Regions from separate parts of the Homo sapiens genome. Here regions 1 and 2 are each linked to region 3. Evidence: fine-mapped expression QTL. A gene starts in region 3. Each other region holds a variant in brackets. All regions are shown on one strand. Distances are from middle to middle. Region 1 overlaps DPP6 (dipeptidyl peptidase like 6). Region 2 overlaps LOC102723686 (a long non-coding RNA gene). Region 3 holds the start of DPP6 (dipeptidyl peptidase like 6).

Region 1 (5,000 bases), 380 kb after region 3:
TAAAGTGCAGACTATGTTTCTATAGTTTCAGGTAGAAATTATTTGGAAATGTACCATGCTGCTGTAAAACAAACAAAAAGCCACCCTAAGCCCGTATTTTCTCCTTTTGTGACACTGCAGAGTTATAGTTTCCACACAGATATCGTGCCTGCAGGGCCTTTAGAAGCATGTGGCTGCTGGCTTTCACCCTGAAGGTCCAGACTGCTGGACTCTTCAGCCGCCGCTTCACCCTTCCCTCTCTGCTTGCTGCTGGCTTTGGGGTTGGGATCTGCTTCCCACTCTCCTGCATCTGACGTGCTCTTCCATTTTTCTCCCAGTCCATCATGGTAAATTCTTGTCTTCATATTCCTTCTCTTCTCCCACCTTTGTTTCTGAGCTGCTCACCTGAGCTGTGGGAGTGCAACTGGGATCATCAGCATTTTCCAATCAAAGTGCTCTTATCTTCTGATCAGCAAAATAACCCATCACAGAAATGACTGAATTAATGACTCTCTAGACAGTTGAGTCTCTTCCACGTTTTTGATCAGGGCCTGCTCATACTCAGACATTTCTTGTTTGTTGTTGTTGCTTTTATGTTCATGGCTGTTCCCAAGCAGAGAGAATTTATTTTATTCTATTTTTATTTTTATTTTTTGAGATGGAGTCTCGCTCTGGTCACCCAGGCTAAAGTGCAGTGGTGCAATCTCGGCTCACTGCAACCTCTGCCTCCCAGGTTCTCAAGCAATTCTCCTGCCTCAGCCTCCCAAGTAGCTGGGATTACAGGCACACGCCCTTATGCCCCATTACTTTTTGTATTTTTAGTAGAGATAGTGTTTCACCATGTTGGCCAGGCTGGTGTTGAACTCCTGACCTCAGGTGATCCACCTGTCTCAGCCTCCCAAAGTGCTGGAATTACAGGCATGAGCCACCATTCCTGGCTGAGAATTTCATTTAAATTGTGGATTACTAGGCATTAATTATGTTTGTGTGAGAGAGAGTGGCAGAGGGACATTGAAAGAGCAACAGGGACAGAGAGACAGAGAGAGAACAAGGAGAAGGAGGACGAGAGAGAAAGAAAGAGGGAGGAATGGGAGGGGGTACTGAGAGATCACACCAAATTCATTGCACGTTCCTGTGAGTTGCTGCCACACGCTGCACTGGGCCAACGCTTTCCCACCAGTTTCACTAGTGGAGATGACCTCATCGGATCCTCTTTGCCATCTTCTGTGAGGTTGGAACCATGCAGAGTCCTGCATTTTCCTCCATCTACCCCTAAGTCCTTGTGTTAATTATGATCTGTGTTGGCTTTTATCACCTTTGTGGAAAGAGAAGAGCCACCAATAATGAAGACTGAGTAAATGAGCCAGTGAAACAGAGACGGGGATGTGCACCCCCCAGGCTCCTGGATGATTATTGACGGACACGTGTCAGCTGCTAAATGTTATTTAAAACTTGTTCTTGCCATCCTATCATCATTTGCTGTCCTCCTGAATATGGAAATACAATGATTAGAAGGCTGTTTTACCATCCTGAGATATGTGCACCATTGATTTTGTAATTTGTTGCTACCTTCTACTTATAGTAAATGGTCCATGATACATAAAAGAAATTTATGTCAGAGCTTTTCACAGTGAATAAATATTAGGAAGAAAATACATTTAGACAATAGAAGGAAGCAGTGTAATGGGAGATCCTGCAGTCATGTATGTGTCGTTTATTTTCTCCCAATATTTTTTATAGTAGCTGTGTGAATATCTTACTTTTTACGGTGCTCAATTCCACATTGGCCTGATATTTGACATATTTTAAGGCACAGTGGGAGAAGGAACCAATCCTGACCTTTCTCTAGGCACTTTTCTGATGTCAGTAGATGAACTGAATAATTAATATCTGACTTCTTCTGGAACTTATTTGAGGTGGCTTACAGAATCCTCCCCTGGCTTCCTATTGTGTTTTGGATAAAAGGCAAGACCAGTGGCACGGTCCACGAGGCTGGGCCTGGTTTTCTTTGTGCCTGTCTGTCCAGCTTCATCTCGGATGCTTCACGCCTCACTCCTGACATGTAGCCACACATGCACCAGGTTACAACCGCTCCATTGCATGGGAAACCTGCCCCAGCTGGTCACCACCTCCTTCCTGTATACTCTTCAACTCTCAGCTCAAATTCTCTTCCTCAGAGCACCCTTGCTTGCCCCAACACCTCAGTAAAAATCAGCACATGCCCCATCATTATACGCCCTCTTGACACATGGAATTCCTGCCCACTGCCCCACCTCACAGTGTCACTGGGTTTGCCTGAGGTCTCTCCCACCGCGTGCAAGTGTAGGGATGTCTCTTCAGTTCAGCACGTTAGGCCAATGCTCACTGTCACAACATTGGTATCCAGTACACGTGGTTAACCATTGCTATTGTGAAATATTATAATGCAAAAACTATGGAACATGTAAACTCACAGCTTAATGGGTGAGTGTAACCTGAATTTCCTAATGTGAAATAGCCCATTCAGGTCTAGAAACAGAGGACAGCCAGTACCCCGCAGCTCCTGTACCTTGACTTCCTCTTTCCAGTGGCAACTTCTCTCTCCCCGTTGAGTTATGCAGCATCCTGGATTTCATGGAAATGTCTTTCTGGCTTGTCTTCATGAACTTACGTGTGAACCACTCACTTAGTGTAGTTTGCCCACTGTGGAACTTTTTACAAAAAGAAATATTCATCTTATATTCTTTACTGTCTGATCTATGTCACTTAAAATTATATTTGTGAGGTTCATTC[A/G]TGCTGTGCATGTAGTCAGAGGTTGTGATTTGCATGGCTATATGGCATTCTGTTACATGGAATACACCACTCTGGTAGACAGACCAATGACACCCCATGAAGATGTCCGTATCCCATTCCCTGGTACCTGTGACTATGTTAGCTTCCCTGACAAAGGAGACTAAGGTTACAGGTGAATAAAGATAGTAAGATTACTCATCAATTGCCTCTCTGCAGCCAATCATTTCTCTGATGCTATTTGTTTTTCCATTATACTGGATTATGTGAAAATTCTGATACTAGGCTAATAGCTGTTTAACATGGATCTAATGAATAGATTCCATTCTAGGCCAGCTATAGTTTAAAAATACTACAGCTTTCTTTTTGAGTAATTTGATACCTAAAATAGTGAAGACCTCAGGAAGAGCCCATCCTCTTTGAGACCCGTGAACATTCTGCCGTGCCAACTGTCTTGGCTGGCATTTGCTTCCCCTTAAATTAGCTTCCTCCTGTCACAGAGGGGCCCATACTACAAGGCTGGTGGATGATGACAAATTTGATTCTTGAAAATCTGTTAAGGTAATTGCAAAATTCCACTCAGTTTCCCTGGGAAAATAACTCTACCTGCTAGTAGAATCACCAGCCTTTTCAAAGAAAATGTATACATCAAATTAGCAAATTAGTTATTTTAAAATTGTAAACCAAAGGCCAGGTGTGGTGGTTCATGCCTGTAATTCCAGCACTTTGAGAGGCTGAGGTGGGCGGATCCCTTGAGTCCAGGAGTTCAAGATCAGCCTGGCCAACATGGCGAAACCCAGTCTCTGCTAAAAATACAAAAATTAGCTGGACACGGTGGTGGACGCCTGTAATCCGTGTTACTTGGGAGGCTGAGGCAGGGAGAAATGTTTGAACCCAGGAGGCAGAGATTGTAGTGAGCCAAGATCACGCCACTGCACTCCAGCCTGGATGACAGTGAGACTCCATCTGAAAAAATAACATAAAAATAAAATAAAACTAAATTAAATTGTAAACCAAGAGTGTTGTTGGAATTTCCACCTAGTCTTCGAGTGTAAGTGTAGCTAGAATATGCCGCAGACACAGGAGCATACCCCTCAGGAACCAGGGAGCAGGCGCTGGATGAAGCATCAATGCTTGCTGTACATTCGGCTTTTGTTTTTGAGTTTCAGAAACCCACTCAAATTAGTTTAAGTAAAATGGAAAATGAAATATCTCCTAAAGGCTGGGCACTGTGGCAAATGCCTGTAATCCCAGAACTTTGGGAGGCCAAGGAGGGTGGATCACAAGGTCAGGAGATCGAGACCATCCTGGCTGACACGGTGAAACCCCGTCTCGACTAAAAAAATACAAAAAAATTAGCCGGGCGTGGTGGCGGGAGCCTGTAGTCCCAGCTACTCAGGAGGCTGAGTCAGGAGAACGGCGTGAACCCAGGAGGCGGAGCTTGCAGTGAGTCGAGATAGCACCACTGCACTCCAGCCTGGGTGACAGAGTGAGACTCCAACTCAAAAAAAAAAAAAAAAAAAAAAAAAAAAGAAAAGAAAAAAAGAAATATCTCCTAAAGTAACAGGAGTGCATTATTAAATCCAAGGGAAAAATGCATCCAGGCCTCAGGAGGAAAAGTACATCAAAAATGGAAAGCCAAGAGGAGCTCATTCTGTCTCTTTGAGCTTCTTACCTTTTTGCCTTTGTCTCTTTGCTTTTCATTCTCTTTGGTTCTGAACCTCTCTACTTCATTCCTCTCATTCTGTAAATCTGCTTTATTTCCTTTGGAATCTTTACACCATATGGCAGCAGGCACTTAACTTCCCTCCCCACCTTCCGTTCTCATGGTTTGTGACAGCAGCCAAGAACGACTTGGAATATTTTAATCTCACACCACAAATCCTGGAGCAGACTTTTGACCTAGGTTAGGCCAATTAATTGTCTCTGGCTGAGGAGGAGAGGAGGGGGCTCACAGACTAGAAATGTGGCTTCCAGGGCCCATGGGTGGAGGAGGAGGGCAGCTCCGATCATTCTGACTGGGATGCTCTTCACAATGCCTCTGTACCGTGCTGGAACATTGTACCAGGGTGGCAAGCCCTTTTTAAAAAGTGAGCTCCAATTACTTTAGTCTCTGCCATTCAATTGCTGGTGGTTCTTGCCTTTGAGGCTAGTTTGTTAGTTACTTAATATTTATTGAGTGCCTGCAGGGATTTTTGACATTGAGAAGTGATGTGTTGAGCGTGCCAAAAATCTACCCAGTATAGAAAACT
Region 2 (10,482 bases), 820 kb before region 3:
TTGTCATAAATAGCTCTTATTATTTTGAGATAGGTTCCATCAATACCTAGTTTATTGAGAGTTTTTAGCATGAAGAGATGTTGAATTGTATCAAAGGCCTTTTCTGCATCTGTTGAGATAATCATGTGGTTTTTGTCATTGGTTCTGTTTATATGATGGATTATGTTTATTGATTTGTGTATGTTGAACCATCCTTGCATGCCAGGGATGAAACCGATTTGATAGTGGTGGGTAAGCTTTTTGATGTGCTGCCGGATTCACTTTGCCAGTATTTTATTGAGGATTTTTGCATTGATGTTCATCAGGGATATTGGCCCAAAATTTTCTTTTTTTGTTGTATCTCTGACAGGTTTTGGTATCAGGATGATGTTGGCCTCATAAAATGCATTAGGAAGGAGGCCCTCTTTTTCTATTTTTTGGAATAGTTTCAGAAGGAATGGTACTAGCTCCTCTTTCTACCTTTGGTAGAATTCAGCTGTGAATCCGTCTGGTCCTGGGCTTTTTTTTTTTGGTTGGCAGGTTGTTAATTACTGCCTCAATTTCAGAACTTGTTATTGGCCTATTCAGGGATTCAATTTCTTCTTGGTTTAGACTTGGGAGGGTGTGTGTGTCCAGGAATTTATTCATTTCTTCTAGATTTTCTAGTTTATTTGCATAGAGGTGTTTATAGTATTTTCTGATGATAGTTTGCATTTCTGTGGGATCAGTGGTGAAATCCCCTTTATCATTTTTATTGTGTCCATTTGATTCTTCCCTCTTTTCTTCTTTATTAGTCTGGCTAGCAGTCTATCTATTTTGTTAATCTTTTCAAAAAAGCAGCTCTTGGATTCATTGATTTTTTGAGGGTTTTTTTTGTGTCTCTATCTCCTTCAGTTCTGCTCTGATCTTAGTTATTTCTTGTTTTCTGCTGGCTTTTGAATTTGTTTGTTCTTGCTTCTCTAGTTCTTTTAATTGTGATGTTAGGGTGTCAATTTTATCTTTCCTGCTTTCTCCTGTGGGTATTTAGTGCTATAAATTTCTCTGTAAACACTACTTTAGCTGTTTCCCAGAGGTTCTGGTACATTGTGTCTTTGTTCTCACTTGTTTCAAGGAATTATTTATGTCTACCTTAATTTTGTTATTTACCCAATAGTCTTTCAGGAGCAGATTGTTTAGTTTCCATGTAATTGTGCGGTTTTGAGTGAGTTTCTTAATCCTGAGTTCTAATTTGATTGCACTGTGGTCTGAGAGACTGTTTGTTATGATTTCTGTTCTTTTGCCTTTGCTGAGGAGTGTTTTACTTCCAATTATATGGTCAAGTTTAGAATAAGTGTGATGTGGTGCTGAGAATAACGTATATTCTGTTGATTTTGGGTGGAGAGTTCTGTAGATGTCTGTTAGGTCCTCTTGGTCCAGAGCTGAGTTCAAATCCTGAATATCCTTGTTAATTTTCTGTCTCATTGATCTGTCTAATATTGACATGGGGTGTTAAAGTCTCCCACTATTATTGTGTGGGAGTCTAAGTCTCTTTGTAGGTCTCTAGGAACTTGCTTGATGAATCTGGGTGCATGTATATTTAGGATAGTTAGCTCTTCTTGTTGCATTGATCCGTTTATCATTATGTAATGCCCTTCTTTGTCTTTTTTGATCTTTGTTGGTTTAAAGTCTGTTTTATCAGGGACTAGGATTAGAACCCCTGCTTTTTTTTTTTTTTTTTTTTTTGGCTTTCCATTTGCTTGGTAAATATTCCTCCATCCCTTTATTTTGAGCGTATGTGTGTCTTTGCATGTGAGATTGGTCTCCTGAATACAGCACACCAATGGGTCTTGCCTCTTTATCCAATTTGCCAGTCTGTGTCTTTTAATTGGGGCATTTAGCCCATTTTTATTTAAGGTTAGTACTGTTATGTGTGAATTTGATCCTGTCATTATGATGCTAGCTGGTTATTTTGCCCATTAGTTGATGCAGTTTCTTCATAGTGTCGATGGTCTTTGCAATTTGGTATCTTTAGTGGCGGGTACTGGTTTTTCCTTTCCATGTTTAATGCTTCCTTCAGGAGCTCTTGTAAGGCAGGCCTGGTGGTGACAAAATCTCTCAGCATTTGCTTGTCTGTAAAGGATTTTATTTCTCCTTCACTTCTAAGGCTTAGTTTGGCTGGATATGAAATTCTGGGTTGAAAATTCTTTTCTTTAAGAATGTTGAATATTGGCCCTCATTCTCTTCTGGCTTGTGCAGTTTCTGCAGAGAGATCCACTGTTAGTCTGATAGGCTTCCCTTTGTGGGTAACCTGATGTTTCTCTCTGGCTGCTCTTAACATTTTTTTCCTTCATTTCACCCTTGGCGAATCTGATGATTATGTGTCTTGGGGTTGCTCTCCTTGTGGAGTATCTTTGTGGTGTTCTCTGTACTTCCTGAATTTGAATGTTGGCCTGTCTTGCTAGGTTGGGGAATTTCTCCAGGATAATATCCTGATGAGTGTTTTCCAACTTGGTTCCAATCTCCCTGTCACTTTCAGGTCCACTAATCAAATGTAGGTTTGGACTTTTCACACAGTCCCGTATTTCTTGGAGGCTTTTTCATTCTTTTTTCTCTAATCTTGTCTTCACACTTTATTTCATTAAGTTGATCTTCAGTCTCTGATATCCTTTCCTCCACTTGATGAATTTGGCTATTGATACTTGTGTGTGCTTCATGAAGTCCTTGTGCTGTATTTTTCAGCTCCATGAGGTCATTTATGTCCTTCTCTAAACTGGTTATTCTAGTTAGCAGTTCCTGTAACCTTTTATCAAGGTTCTTAGCTTCCTTGTATTGGGTTAGAACGTGATCCTTTAGCTTGGAGGAGTTTGTTATTACCTACCTTCTGAAGCCTACTTCTGTCAATTCGTCAAACTCATTCTCCATCCAGTTTTGTTCCCTTGCTGGCAAGGAGTTGTGATCTTTTAGAGGAGAAGAAGTATTCTGGTTTGGGGAATTTTCAGCCTTTTTGCGCTGTTTTTTCCCTATCTTGTGGATTTATCTATTTTTGGTCTTTGATGCTGGTGACCTTTGGGTGGGGTTTTTGTGTGGACATTCTTTTTGTTGATGTTGATGCTATTCCTTTCTGTTAGTTTTCCTTCTAAAAGTCAGGCTCCTCTGCTGCAGGTCTGCTGGAGTTTGCTGGAGGTCCACTCCAGATCTGGTTTTCCTGGGTATCACCAGCGGAGGCTGCAGAACAGCAAAGATTGCTGCCTGTTCCTTCCTCTGGTAGCTTCATCCCAGAGGGGCACCTGCTAGTTGCCAGCTGGAGCTCTCCTGTATGAGGTGTCTGTCGACCCCTGCTGGGAGGTGTCTTCCAGTCAGGAGTCATGGGGGTCAGGGACCCACTTGAGGAGGCAGTCTGTCCCTTAGCAGAGCTCGAGTGCTGTGCTGGGAGAGCTGCTGCTCTCTTCAGAGCCGGCAGGCACAAACATTTATGTCTGCTGAGGCTGCACCCACAGCTGCCCCTTCCCCTAGGTGCACTGTCCCAGGGAGATGGGACTTTTATCTATAAGCCCCTGACTGGGCTGCTGCCTTTCTTTCAGAGATGCCCTGACCAGAGAGAAGAAATATAGAGAGGCAGTCTGGCTACAGTGGCTTTGCTGAGCTGTGGTGGGCTCCGCCCAGTTTGAACTTCCCTGCGGCTTTGTTTACACTGTGAGGGGGAAAATGCCTACTCAAGCCTCAGTAATGGTGGACGCCCCTCCACCCACCAAGCTCGAGTGTCTCTGGTCAAATTCAGAGTGCTGGATCTTCAGACTGGATCTTCAGACTGCCAGTGGATCTTAGTTTGCTGGGCTCTGTGGGGATGGGATCTGCTGAGCTAGACCACTTGGGTCCCTGGCTTCAGCCCTTTATCCAGAGGAGTGAACAGTTCTGTCTCACTGGCATTCCAGGTACCACTGGGGTATGAAAAAAAACTCCTGCAGCTAGCTTGGTGTCTGCCTAAATGGCTGCCCAGTTTTGTGCTTGAAACCCAGGGCCCTGATGGTGTAGCCACCAGAGGGAATCTCCTGGTCTGCGGGTTGTGAATACCATAGGAAAACCATAGCATCTGCACCTGATAGCACTGTTCCTCATGGCAC[A/G]GTCCCTCAGGGCTTCCCTTGGCTAGGGGAGGGAGTTCCCGACTCCTTGCACTTCCCAGGTGAGGCGATGCCCCACCCTGCTTCAGCTCACCCTCTGTGGGCTGCTCCTACTGTCTAACCAGTCCCAATGAGATGAGCCGTGTACCTCAGTTGGAAATGCATAAATCACCTGCTTTCTGCATCAGTCTTGCTGGGAGCTGCAGACTGGAGCTGTTCCTATTCAGCTATCGTAAACACATTAATTTTTCACACAGCAAACTGCTCTGTTCCCAGTAAAAATGTCCTAACCTTGTACTACCCTCCAAATGAGCTTGTTAATGAGGAATACAGATGAAAATGTCTCAGTCTCTGAAATCCTGAAGGCCATCTGTATTAACTGTTGTGGCACTACAGTGTAGCCCAAATCTTAGCAGCTTAAAATTATGAACAGGCTTGCTGGGCACGATGGCTCATGCCTATAATCCCAGCACTTTGGGAGGCCCAGGCGGATGGATCACCTGAGGTCAGGAGTTGAAGACCAGCCTGACCAACATGGTGAAACCCTGTCTCTACTAAAAATACAAAAAATTAGTCAGGCGTGGTGGTGGGCACCTGTAATCCCAGCTACTTGGGAGGCTGAGGCAGAAGAATTGCTTGAACTCAGGAGGTGGAGGTTGCAGTGAGCTGAGATTGTGCCATTGCATGCCAGCCTGGGCAACAAGAGCAAAACTCTGTCTCAAAAAAAAAAATTATGAACAGGCTTGACTTAGCTGGGTGGATCTGGCTCAAGGTCTCTCTCGAGGTTGCAGTCAAGCTGTTGGCCAGGGCTATGACCATCGCAATGGGGGATGGAGGTCCTGTGCCCAAGCTCACTTATGTGACTTGGCAGGAGGCTTCATTGCCTCACCATGTGGGCCTTTCCATGGGGCTGCTCATGACACAACTTCCCCTAGAATAGACGATCCAAATGGGCAAGAGAGAGACCTAAATAGAAGTGCAGTTCCTGTCAGCCTGGGAACTCCAGAAGGGAAGGAGTTTGCATTAGTGTCCTTGGGTTCTGGTAACAAAGCAGAACTGAGTGGCTCAACCACAGGAAAAGGTTGTCTTATGGTTCTGCAGGCTGGAGGTCTCAGACAGAAATGTTGGCGGGGGGGTTCCTTCTGGGGACTGTGAGGGAGAATCTGTTTTGTGCCTCTTCCCTATCTTCTAGTGGTTTTCTATCACTGGTGTTTTTTGGCATCTAGATGCATCATCCCAATCTCTGCCTTTATCTTCATATGGCGTTCTCCCTGTGTCATGTCTGTTTCTGTGTCCAGATTTCCCCTTTGTATAAGAACAACAGTTATATTGGATTACGGTTCACCATAATGATCTTATTTTAACTTGATTACCTCAGTAAAGACTTTATTTCCAAATAAGGTCACTTTCCCAGGTCTTGGAGATTGGGACTTCAGCATATTTTGTGGGAGACAAAATTAAGCCCAATAACAGAGTGAAAACCTGAGGTCTGAGATTAGGGTGGGTGAGTAGATGCTCTTGAGAAACTTCAGCATCCAGCATCTCTCGTATTGCTCGTCCTAAAGAAGTGGCCTATTCCATCTTGCTAAAAGATGGCTCCTTGCTTGAAGATTATGCAGAGGTTTCAAAAGAGTCAAGTTTCTTAAAAGACAATGCCTTCCCCTTCAGGGTGTTTCTGGCAGCAATCTAATAACAAGTGTCAAATCCCAGCAGAGCCCAAAGAGGGTCATGCTGAGCTGCCAAGTGAGGAGGAGGCTCATAATCCGAAGTCCTCCAGGGTCTGCTAGCAGGCATGGGAGTTGTCCCAAGGGTGCTGGATCAAGGAGGGGCAGAACATAGAATTGGGTGAAGGAGAGGTTATGGACGTGGAAGCAATACCTTACAATAGAAGATATAACAACTGGCAAGGACCATGGGAATGGGGCTGATATGTTGCCAGGATGGCTCTTGAAATTCTTGAGAAAATCAATGGCCCAGAGTAAGTGAAGCAGAAATGCCAGAGTTGTCATGACAGATGGTAGAAGAAAGGATCAAAAGGACCAGATAATTGCACATACTAAGCCATGATTAACACAGTTTCCTCTCTTAGGTATGCATCTGAGGAGATGGCGAAGACATTTTTAACATCTTTATCAGGTAGGTGGATCAAAAACAGCTTATGTTTATGTGAAAAGCACAACAGTAAATGTTTAGAGTCTTTCTCTGCGGTTATGTTACCTCTCCCACCATCTGTCATTTTATAGTCTGAAGATCCCTGGACCATCTAGGAATTGTCTATGATACTACATGGGTACACTCTATCTATGGCACCATGTTAATCATGCTGGATGAACAAGAAATGGCAAATATGTTAGAGAACTTGATAAGGCATATGTTCACATTCTTCACAGGATGGAAAAATAAATGTTATGAAGGTTCAGGGATCTGTCACAGTCACAAAATTTGTAGGTGTCTGGAAGTCTGGGACTTGCTGGGACATCCCCTCTAAATAAAGGATGAATTGTTGAATCTAGTATTGCCCACAGTCAAGAAAGATGAGAAGAATTTGGCAGGCACCCAGGATTATGGAGTCAACATCTTTGGCACTTGGGAATACTGATTGTACCCATTTAGAGGAGACATGGAGGGTATGCATTTTTAAGTGGAACCTGAGCCCAGGCTGGCATCTACATCGTTTCCAGGCTGCAGCACAGCTGGTCCTTCCATTTTTGTCATTTGACCTGACAGATGTATGACCCTGTAGGTATCAAAAAGGTGGGAAAAGATGCTGTGTGGAACATTTGGCAAGCTTCAACTGGATAATCAGAATGTATCTCTTTAGGATCTACTGGGAGCAAGGACATTACCAACCACAGGAGATAACTATAAAGCATTCCAAAAGTAGCTCCTGTCATGCCCTGTCCTGGGTTCTGCTAGAGGCACAGTGTTTGACCATGGAGCATCAAGTGACCAAGTGACCAGTGCCCCGTCATGAGCTGCATCGGGTCACACCCACAAAGACATAGGCAAGTGAGCCCAGAAGAAATTCATCATAAAACAGAAATGGTGCATGTAGGTTTAGGCAAGAACAAATCCAGCAGGTACAAGTAAGCTACATGAGCAGGTGGCCCAGACCACATATCTTCTATTATTGTGTTGGCACCTCTCCCCCAACTCATCCCTCTAGCCACATTAGCTTAAAGTTGATGCTGCTTATTGGCTGGGAGTCCAACAGGGTGATCAACTGGAGCCCTCACTGTGGCTTCTCCGTGTGGCTTGGGCTTCTCATAGCCTCATGGCTTATTCCAAGAGGGATGATCCCAAGTGCAAACATTCCAGGCCTAGCTGCAAGGTTTCTTATGACCCAGCCTTGAAAGTCATGTGGTATCACTTCGGTAGCACACTACTAACCACAGAAGTCACAGACCTGGCCCAGATTCAGGAGGAGGGGAAATAGACTTTCCCTCTCAATGACATCTCAGTGGGACCAGTAGCAAAAAAATCTGTAGCCATTTTAAATTTACCACAGGTGCTGTTTTCCAGGGCAGCATAGACAGCCTAAATCAATGACTATTATATGACACAGCTGTGTCTTCATTTGGTGTAAGGAATGGAAAATAGAGATGACACCACGTTCTCCATGGCTCTCTTCGACTCACTTGAAATTTCTGCTCTGGTCCCTGCAGTTTCATGCTGTACCTGTTAAGAGGTCCTGGCTTCCAGAAGGAAATTACTTCCACCAGTGGACATGGTAAGAGTCTCATTGAACTTTCAGCTATGGCTGCTGCTTGATCACTTGGTGCCAATAAACCATCCAGAAGAGAAAAGTCACAACCTGCAGGGAAAATTGACTCATTACCAGTGGGAGGTAGGCCTGCTGCCACACAGTGGACATAGGGAAGAATCTCTTTGGTGCTCAGTGATCCCAGTGCTATACTCAAATGAGACAAACTTAATGTAAAAAGCAAGTTGATCTGTGAAGTGGAAGGGATTAACTTTAATGAAGACTGTGGTGCTTTGCCAAGATCCTTTCTTTAGAGATGATTTACCCATAGCCTGGTGGCTGGTGGCTCCCAGGTGCACCCTGTTCTATCATCATTATTCACCATGTTGGTGGAGGAAGAATACCCAACCCCTTCAATCGCACAAGGTAGCTGAACACATGACACCTTGTGCTGGACAGATGTGATCAACAGCAGTTTATTAGTTACATATACCCACAGCCTGCCTGGGGAAGATGACGCCACACACCACGCAGGGCCACACGAGGGATGCACTCAAGAACAGAGTGGACCAGAGGGGCATGGAGGCAGGCTTTGTAGAAACAAGGGGGTGTGGTGGCCCCTGGTGCCTGTGGGAGGATGTTATTGGCTTGTTTGTTTCATGGAGTAGCAGGGGATGGAGACACGTGAGATTGGAGACTGATGGGGGACACTGGTCCAGCCAACGGGAACAAGCAAGGCAGGGAGCAGGGGAACTCATAGGGCTCCTTTGGGGCCTGGAAGCCTCAAAGATGGCAAAATAACACTTGAAATTGTTTCTTCTTCACATTTGCATCCACCTGTGTAGGTGTTTCCAGTATTCAAATCCATCCTAACTAAAGGAAGAATTGTCATTGCAATGAACGCATTCCATAGGTAAATTCTGAGGAGGGCATCCCCAAAATACAATGAACATTGTGTAGTCTCTTAAGGGAACTATAGTCAAATTAAAAAGCCTCAAAATCAAGAGGTGACTTTCTACCATGTCACTTTATAATCAGGAAGGAGATTTAGAAGGAAGAGAAAGATATACGCAGTAGACATAGAATAAAATAATTCATTAAAATCACCTTTATACATTCATTTATGAAGTTCAAAGTTACATGATAGACCGGTGTTGGCAAGTTTTTTTTTTTTAAATACAGAGCTAGATAGTAAATATTTTAGGCTTTGTGGGCCATATGGTCTCTGATGACTCAGCTCTGCTGTTGTGCAAAAGCAGCCATGGATAAATAGTAAACAAATGGGCATGGTTGTCCTTCAATAAGACTTTACCTACACAAGCCGGTGGCAGGCTGGGCTGGGCCCAATGGTGTAGTTTATCAACCCATGTCATAGAGCATCTGGCCTCAAAAACATATTTCTTAGGTTTGTATATTGCCTTATTTTCCAAGCTTCCCTTGAAATGATCAATTCGTGAGGTATCCAGGCAATATTCTCTCATTTTACAGACCAGAAAACTGAGGTACAGGAACTTTCCTGGGAAAAACTGTGATGAGTAGCAAGCCAAGACTAGAAATCAGATTTCCTGACTATCCTCTCCCACACCCTGACTGTTGCTCAACCCAGCTGATTCACTAGACTCTGGTCACCAATATCAAGTTTCTATCAGATGGGTCAATTTTACTTATTTATTTATTTAATAAAGATTAGCTAAGACATACTTATTTTTTTTATTTTAGTTAACAATAGCAAGGATTTTTGTCCTGATTAAAATATTAAATAATACTACCTTTTTAAAGTTTTTTTTTATTTCAATAGGTTTTTGGGGAACAGGTGGTGTTTGATTACATGAATAAGTTCTTTAGTGGTGATCTCTGAGTTTTTGGTGCACCCATCACCTGAACAGTGTACACTGTACCCAATGTGTAGTCTTTTATCCCTTGCCACCTCCCCCACCCTTTCTCCCGAGTCCCCAAAGTCCAATGTACCATTTTTATGCCTTTGTGTCCTTACAGTTTAGCTCCCACTTATGAGTGTGTATTAGTTTGTTCTCACACTGCTGATAAAGACATACCCATGACTGGGTAGTTTATAAAGGAAAGAGTTTAATTGACTCACAGTTCCACATGGCTGGGGAGGCCTCACAATCATGGAAGAAGGCGAGAGGCATGTCTTACATGGTGGCAGGCAAGAGAGAATGAGAACCAAGTGAAAGGGGTTTCCCCTTATAAAACTGTCAGATCTTGTGAGACTTATTCACTACCATGAGAACATTATGGGGGAAACAGCCTCCATAATTCAATTATCTCCAACCAGGTCCCTCCCACAACACATGGAAATTATGGGAGCTGCAATTCAAGATGAGATTTTGGTGGGGACACAGCCAAACCATATCAGAGTGAAAACATATGATGTTTGGTTTTCCAGTCCTGAGTTACTTCACTTAGAATAATAGTCTCCACTTCCATCCAGGTTGCTGCAAATGCCATTATTTCATTCCTTTTTATGGCTGAGTAGTATTCCATGGTGTGTGTGTATGTGTGTGTGTGTGTGTGTGTGTGTGTGTGTGTGTGTGTGTGTGTATATATATATATATATATATATATATATATATATATATATATATATATAAAAAACATTTTATTTATCCACTCGTTGATTGATGGGCATTTGGGCTGGTTGCATATTTTTGCAATTGCAAATTGTGCTGCTAGAAACATGCA
Region 3 (5,000 bases):
CCCTAGAAGCACCGCGTTCAGTGTGCAAGGTGCAAGAGTATAGCCAAGCGCTTTTCAATTTGGGTAAAGGGCGCTCCATCTGGATCATCCTTGAGGAACATCCTCGTGTTCATCCATGCTGTTTCCAGTCCTCCCCAGCATTCCGGCTCCTTTCACACCTGCATCTTTCAGACGCTCGCTCTTTCCTGCCCTCCGTTTCTTCTGCTTAATTGTGAGATTTGCTTCCCAGCACAAATTTTTACTTCAACTCTTTCCCCTGTTGCTTATGAGTTTTATGGTGATTTCATTTTATAATTTTAAGCAGAAATCGCTTATCATATTTTCTTAGATAATTTAATTGAGATTTTAAACTTTAGTTAGATTACAGTTACCTACAATGCCTTGAGAATATAGTTTTTAAAAGTGGCACATATGCTTTATCCCAATAGTATTCTATCTATGATTAATATGCACACATCTATCATTGTATTTTGTATAAACTATATTAGTATGACATTTAGTTTGTGTAAAAATATGCATGCATATTTCATAGATAGCGTATGTATATTACATAAGTGGGACCCTAACTGCATCTATATTTAGTGAAATGTCAGGATCGCGATGCTGCGGTGAATAGCATGAGCTTTCTTTCATGTCCATGTTAGGAGAGGCAGCTTCCTCCCATCAAAAGCACAGCTGGGGCAGAGGAGGGGGTTGAGAGCAAGGTTTTCTATCTATCTAATTGTGGTGACTTTTAAAGTTTAGTTTTATGGCTCTGTTGCCTCTGTCTTCAAAGTCAAATGGAGCAGCTGAAGCTCTCCCCACCCCAGACCCACCTGCCTGGCCTCTCCCATGCAGCAAGTTTCGCTTAGCTGTTGCAATCCTGGTTTTACTTGGTTTTGTATTTGCTATTTTTTAAAGTGTTTTTAAACTCATGTTTCTTCATAGTAAAGGGTAACTACTGTGGAGTAAACAGAAGATGAGCGTGGTACAAATTTTGGTTAAACCAAAAACTACACACTGGATTGAAAGCTTGGGGAAGGGAGGCAGGTGGAAGGGACTGAAGGAGGTCTCTTCCCAGGAGACTTGTTCACCGGCATCCAGTATTCTCCCCCGCAGTTAGGGAAACAGAGGGAGCATGCAGTTTCAGGCCCAGGCAGGCCTCTCTCTGGGCTTGGGGCAATGCCAGGGCTGGGGGCGAGCCTGCAGTCAGCCTTGTGAGTGGCAGCCGAGGCTGTTATTTTGAAACCCTAAGTGGAAACAGGCATGGAAACCCGGAAGGAGCAGGGAGCCTTAGGCAGTCCTGGGAGATGAAGCCAACGCCCTACCTCCATGTGGAAGGAGGCGGCGGAATGGGCAGGGTCGGGTCTCACAGGTTCCCCCCTCTGGAGTTGGGGTTTCCCGGCCCACGTTCACTCTCTGGATGTGATAGGTCCTTCCCGGCCGGGAAGGGCTGGAAGGGGCGCGCAAGGAGGACGTGGGGACGAGACGAGAGAGACGCGTGCCCAGCAACTCCAGAAGGACGGAGAGGAGTGCAGAAGGGAGCCGGGGAGGACGCGGGAGGGCCGGGAGGGGAAGAGAAGCCAGGCCGGGCCTGGAGCGGAGGAGCGGAGCCCGCTGGTGCGGGTGTCCACACAGGGGCGCTGGAGCGCGCCTTCCTGCGGCTGGGCAGGAGGCAAGCCCGAGAGCGCGCGGCGAGTGGAGCCATGTCGCCCTCCCTCGCTCTCGGCGGGCACAGTGAGGCGCAGGCTTTGGAAAAGTTGCGGGCAGCCGGAGAGCCGAGCCTCCGCCTGCGTTCATGATAATGAGAATGGAGTCGCGGTCACAGCCGGGCTCTCTGCGGGGCGCATCGCCCGCGAGGGGCGCCTGGGCCTCTGGGCGTCCTCTGCCGCCCCGCGACCTTTCCTGCCCTCCTCCGGAGAGAGGCGAAGGGAAGGGGCGGTTTCGGAGGGAGCTGGGCTGTGGAGGGAGGGCGGCCTCTTCACCAGCGTCGTCCGACCACCCCGCGCCCTCCTGGTGGCTCTCCCACGCCCCATTCGCACCCCAGGTCCTCGGGGTGTCTCTGGTGTTGCTTCAAGTTAGGCAAGAGGAGCTGGGGGCGCGGGGAGCCCGGCGCCGCAGCGCGTGCGTGGCTGGGGCGCCCCGGGGCCGGCTGCACCTTCAGTCGCCCCCTGGCCGGCCTGCCTGCCTCGACCTCCGCATCCCCTTGCACCGTCCGCTCGCGTGCTGCGGGGCACTCGCAGCACTACCTTCGGTGGGGCCGCAGCACCCTGAGCTCCCGGGACTCCCCCACCGCCCCCGCACCCACGACCCGCGTGGTCCCAGCCCCTCCACCCTCTTCACGCACCCTCGCACCCTTTTGTGCGACCCCGTGCCCTCTCCGGGCTGCCAACCCCTGCCACCCAGGTGCCAGTCCCGGGCGCGGGGAGGAGGCCGGTGGGGAAGGGGGCGGAGGGGCCGGGGTGGAGGAGGAGCTGCGCGAGGGGCCTGGGGGCGGGGAGCGAGGAGAGCGCTCGGAATGTGTGCCGGTCTCTAGGTGGTGCCAAATTCTGGGGCCTAGGCATTTCCCTCGCTTTATGTTTTTGGTTTTTTTTCTTCCTTCAATCTCTTTGATTAGGCCGTACGTGGCTGTGGCAAGGAGTTGGGGAAAAAAATTATAAAAACAGGAAAGAGAGAAAGCACAGCCAGAGCCCCGGCTTCGCGAGCCGCCGGGGAGGGGGCGGAGGAGGCTGAGCCAGGCAGAGTCGCCAGCGGAGACTCGCGAGTGGCGCGCGGGAGGAGCGGCCGCCGGCGCTGGGCTTGCCTTGCTGCTGCTGCTGCTGCTGCCTCCCCACCGCCTTTTTTTTTTTTTAATCTGGAGCGGGGTGGGGAGTGGGAACCGGAGAGAAAGCAAAATATTAAAAAGCCCCAAAGACAGCCAGCAGGAGCGCGGTGCCCGATGGCTTCGCTGTACCAGAGGTTCACTGGCAAGATCAACACCTCGAGGTCCTTCCCCGCGCCCCCGGAGGCGAGTCACCTCCTGGGCGGCCAGGGGCCCGAGGAGGACGGCGGCGCAGGAGCCAAGCCCCTCGGCCCGCGGGCGCAGGCGGCGGCGCCCCGGGAGCGCGGCGGCGGCGGCGGCGGCGCGGGTGGCCGGCCCCGGTTCCAGTACCAGGCGCGGAGCGATGGTGACGAGGAGGACGTAAGAGCTTCTCGGGGGCGGGGGGCGGCGGCGGGTTCTCCGGGCTGAGCGCGCAGCGAGACGCGTCGGCAGGGGAAATTTTTTTTGGGGGGGGAATCAGGCGCCCTCCCCCCGCCCACGACTCTCCGGGCGCCCCCAGACAGGCTCCGTGGCGCCAGATCGCGGTCACCGCGTCCCGGAGGGAGCGGGTCTGTGTCTGCAGCCGCGGCGGCCGGGAGTTGGTGGCTGGAGAGAGCGGGGTTTGGGTACTGCGCCTGCTGGGATCTGGAATTCGCCTTACGTTCCCTGGGTGCGCGGATGTCTGTTTTTAACAGCATGCTGCTATGGTTCCTAAGGAGAGAATTCGATCGGCCTGTGCTTACGAGTTGGTTTATTTTTTATTTATTTCGTGCTCCGGGAACACAGCCTCAGGCACCTTCTCTCCCTCCCACCTGTGTCTGGAATCTCTCCATCGTGCCCCTCCTCTCCTACTCACTCTGTCCCTTGACTCAAATGCCTCTCCTTCGTTCCTCTTCTTACTTCTCCTAGACACTTTTTCCCCCCAGCGGTGGTGATGGTGATTATCCTTTCCGGAAAAAAAAAATACCAAAATACTGGCATCTGAGCCCCAACCCTCTGTCCCAGGGCCCAGCTCTTTTGCTGAGAGCCCTCAGGCCGTGTCTGTCTCCCCTCCCAGCCCTGGACTAGCACCTCTGCCTTAGACCGTGTTCAGTGAAAACTTCTCCGAGAGCACATTTCCTACTCTTCATGGGGGCTGGAAGCCTGGGTTTCAAAGGTTGGATTTGCACATCGCCCTAGTAACCAATGACTCATGCAGGACAGGAGCCGGACCTTAGATGGATGCGTTTAACCACCTCCTGTGGATCCCTTTCAAGGATGCAGAGGGCTGCTAGGACTTAGAAGGGAGGAAACTGTGCTTTTTCTTTGAGGCCTTCTTTTCCCAGGGAAAAGAGAAAAATCCCCGACAGGCTCTCAGAGAAACAGGTCTGGCTTGGCTGGTACAGCTCTTATAACAGCTAGGCTGTGTTGGTTTGTAGAAATTACTATGTATGCCTTTGAGGAGTTTCACAACTGCTCAACCTGGGAACCGCAGGGGTCCCACCGGCCTCTCACTTAGTCTACCCTGACATACCCAGGGCAGTACATTGCCGGGCACTGAGTAGGTGGTTTTGGTCATTACCTCTCTGCAGCCTCCAGCCACGCTGGTTCCCTGTTTCGTATTTCTTTAGTGCAAGAGTTGTGTTTGGGTCGAGGGAGGGGTGAGACATTGAGTGATTTCCCAGGGACAATTCCTAATTGCCAGATACTATGAAATCAGTGAGGTTTTGCTGTTGTTATTGGTAGTTTTTGTTTTATGAATGAAGGATGTGGAAACTTTAATGGAGATCACAAAACTTTGTGGGAGATGTGGTTTGCACACACACAGGTACACACCCCCTACAGCCCTGCGTCAGATTTTGCATGAGGTTTTGTGATTTTCTCCTGCATCGTTTCCAGACTCCCCTGGTTAAATAGTCATTCAAAGGCATGTCCCTCACTTTGGTGGGCCAAGCCCTGAGGGAAATAGACAGATCCTTCAGTCATCTGGTTCAAGTCTTTGGCAAATGGTTTAATTGGGGGAGGGTGAAGAGTTCTGGAGGATTAAACTACCGAGAATCTTGGGGAAGACAGTTAAGCTGCAATGCAAACAGGAAAAATGTACTTTTTACCTTAAATCTGACTTAAAATTGTTGAATTGTGGATGTTTGGAATGAGAACAATGTGCAGTTTTTTTCTCAACAGGCTCTAGGTGTCGCTAGGAGAAAGGAAAGGCAAGAGCTCTGAATTTTATTTCAGATGA

What was found. PIP is the estimated chance that this variant, and not a neighbour inherited with it, causes the effect. A credible set is the group of variants that fine-mapping cannot tell apart.
Region 1: its variant is the best candidate, but not a certain one, in a credible set for the expression of DPP6 in skeletal muscle (GTEx, PIP 0.75).
Region 2: its variant is the best candidate, but not a certain one, in a credible set for the expression of DPP6 in esophagus muscle (GTEx, PIP 0.76).

The regions. Positions count from the first base shown.
Region 1 is chr7:154,434,218-154,439,217 of GRCh38, forward strand. All of the region lies in intron 1 of DPP6 (dipeptidyl peptidase like 6), which reads left to right. Among named protein-coding and RNA genes, the nearest start is that of DPP6, 380 kb to the left of the region's middle. The variant A/G (reference allele first, on the strand shown) is at 2,752.
Region 2 is chr7:153,231,139-153,241,620 of GRCh38, forward strand. It overlaps LOC102723686 (a long non-coding RNA gene), which reads left to right. Exons shown (of 10, transcript XR_007060599.1): 6 at 6,166-6,212; 7 at 7,742-7,806. Among named protein-coding and RNA genes, the nearest start is that of LINC01287, 180 kb to the right of the region's middle. The variant A/G (reference allele first, on the strand shown) is at 4,080.
Region 3 is chr7:154,049,904-154,054,903 of GRCh38, forward strand. DPP6 (dipeptidyl peptidase like 6) reads left to right here and starts at 2,495. Exons shown (of 26, transcript NM_130797.4): 1 at 2,495-3,160. The coding sequence starts at 2,918. RefSeq lists an enhancer at 1,386-1,988.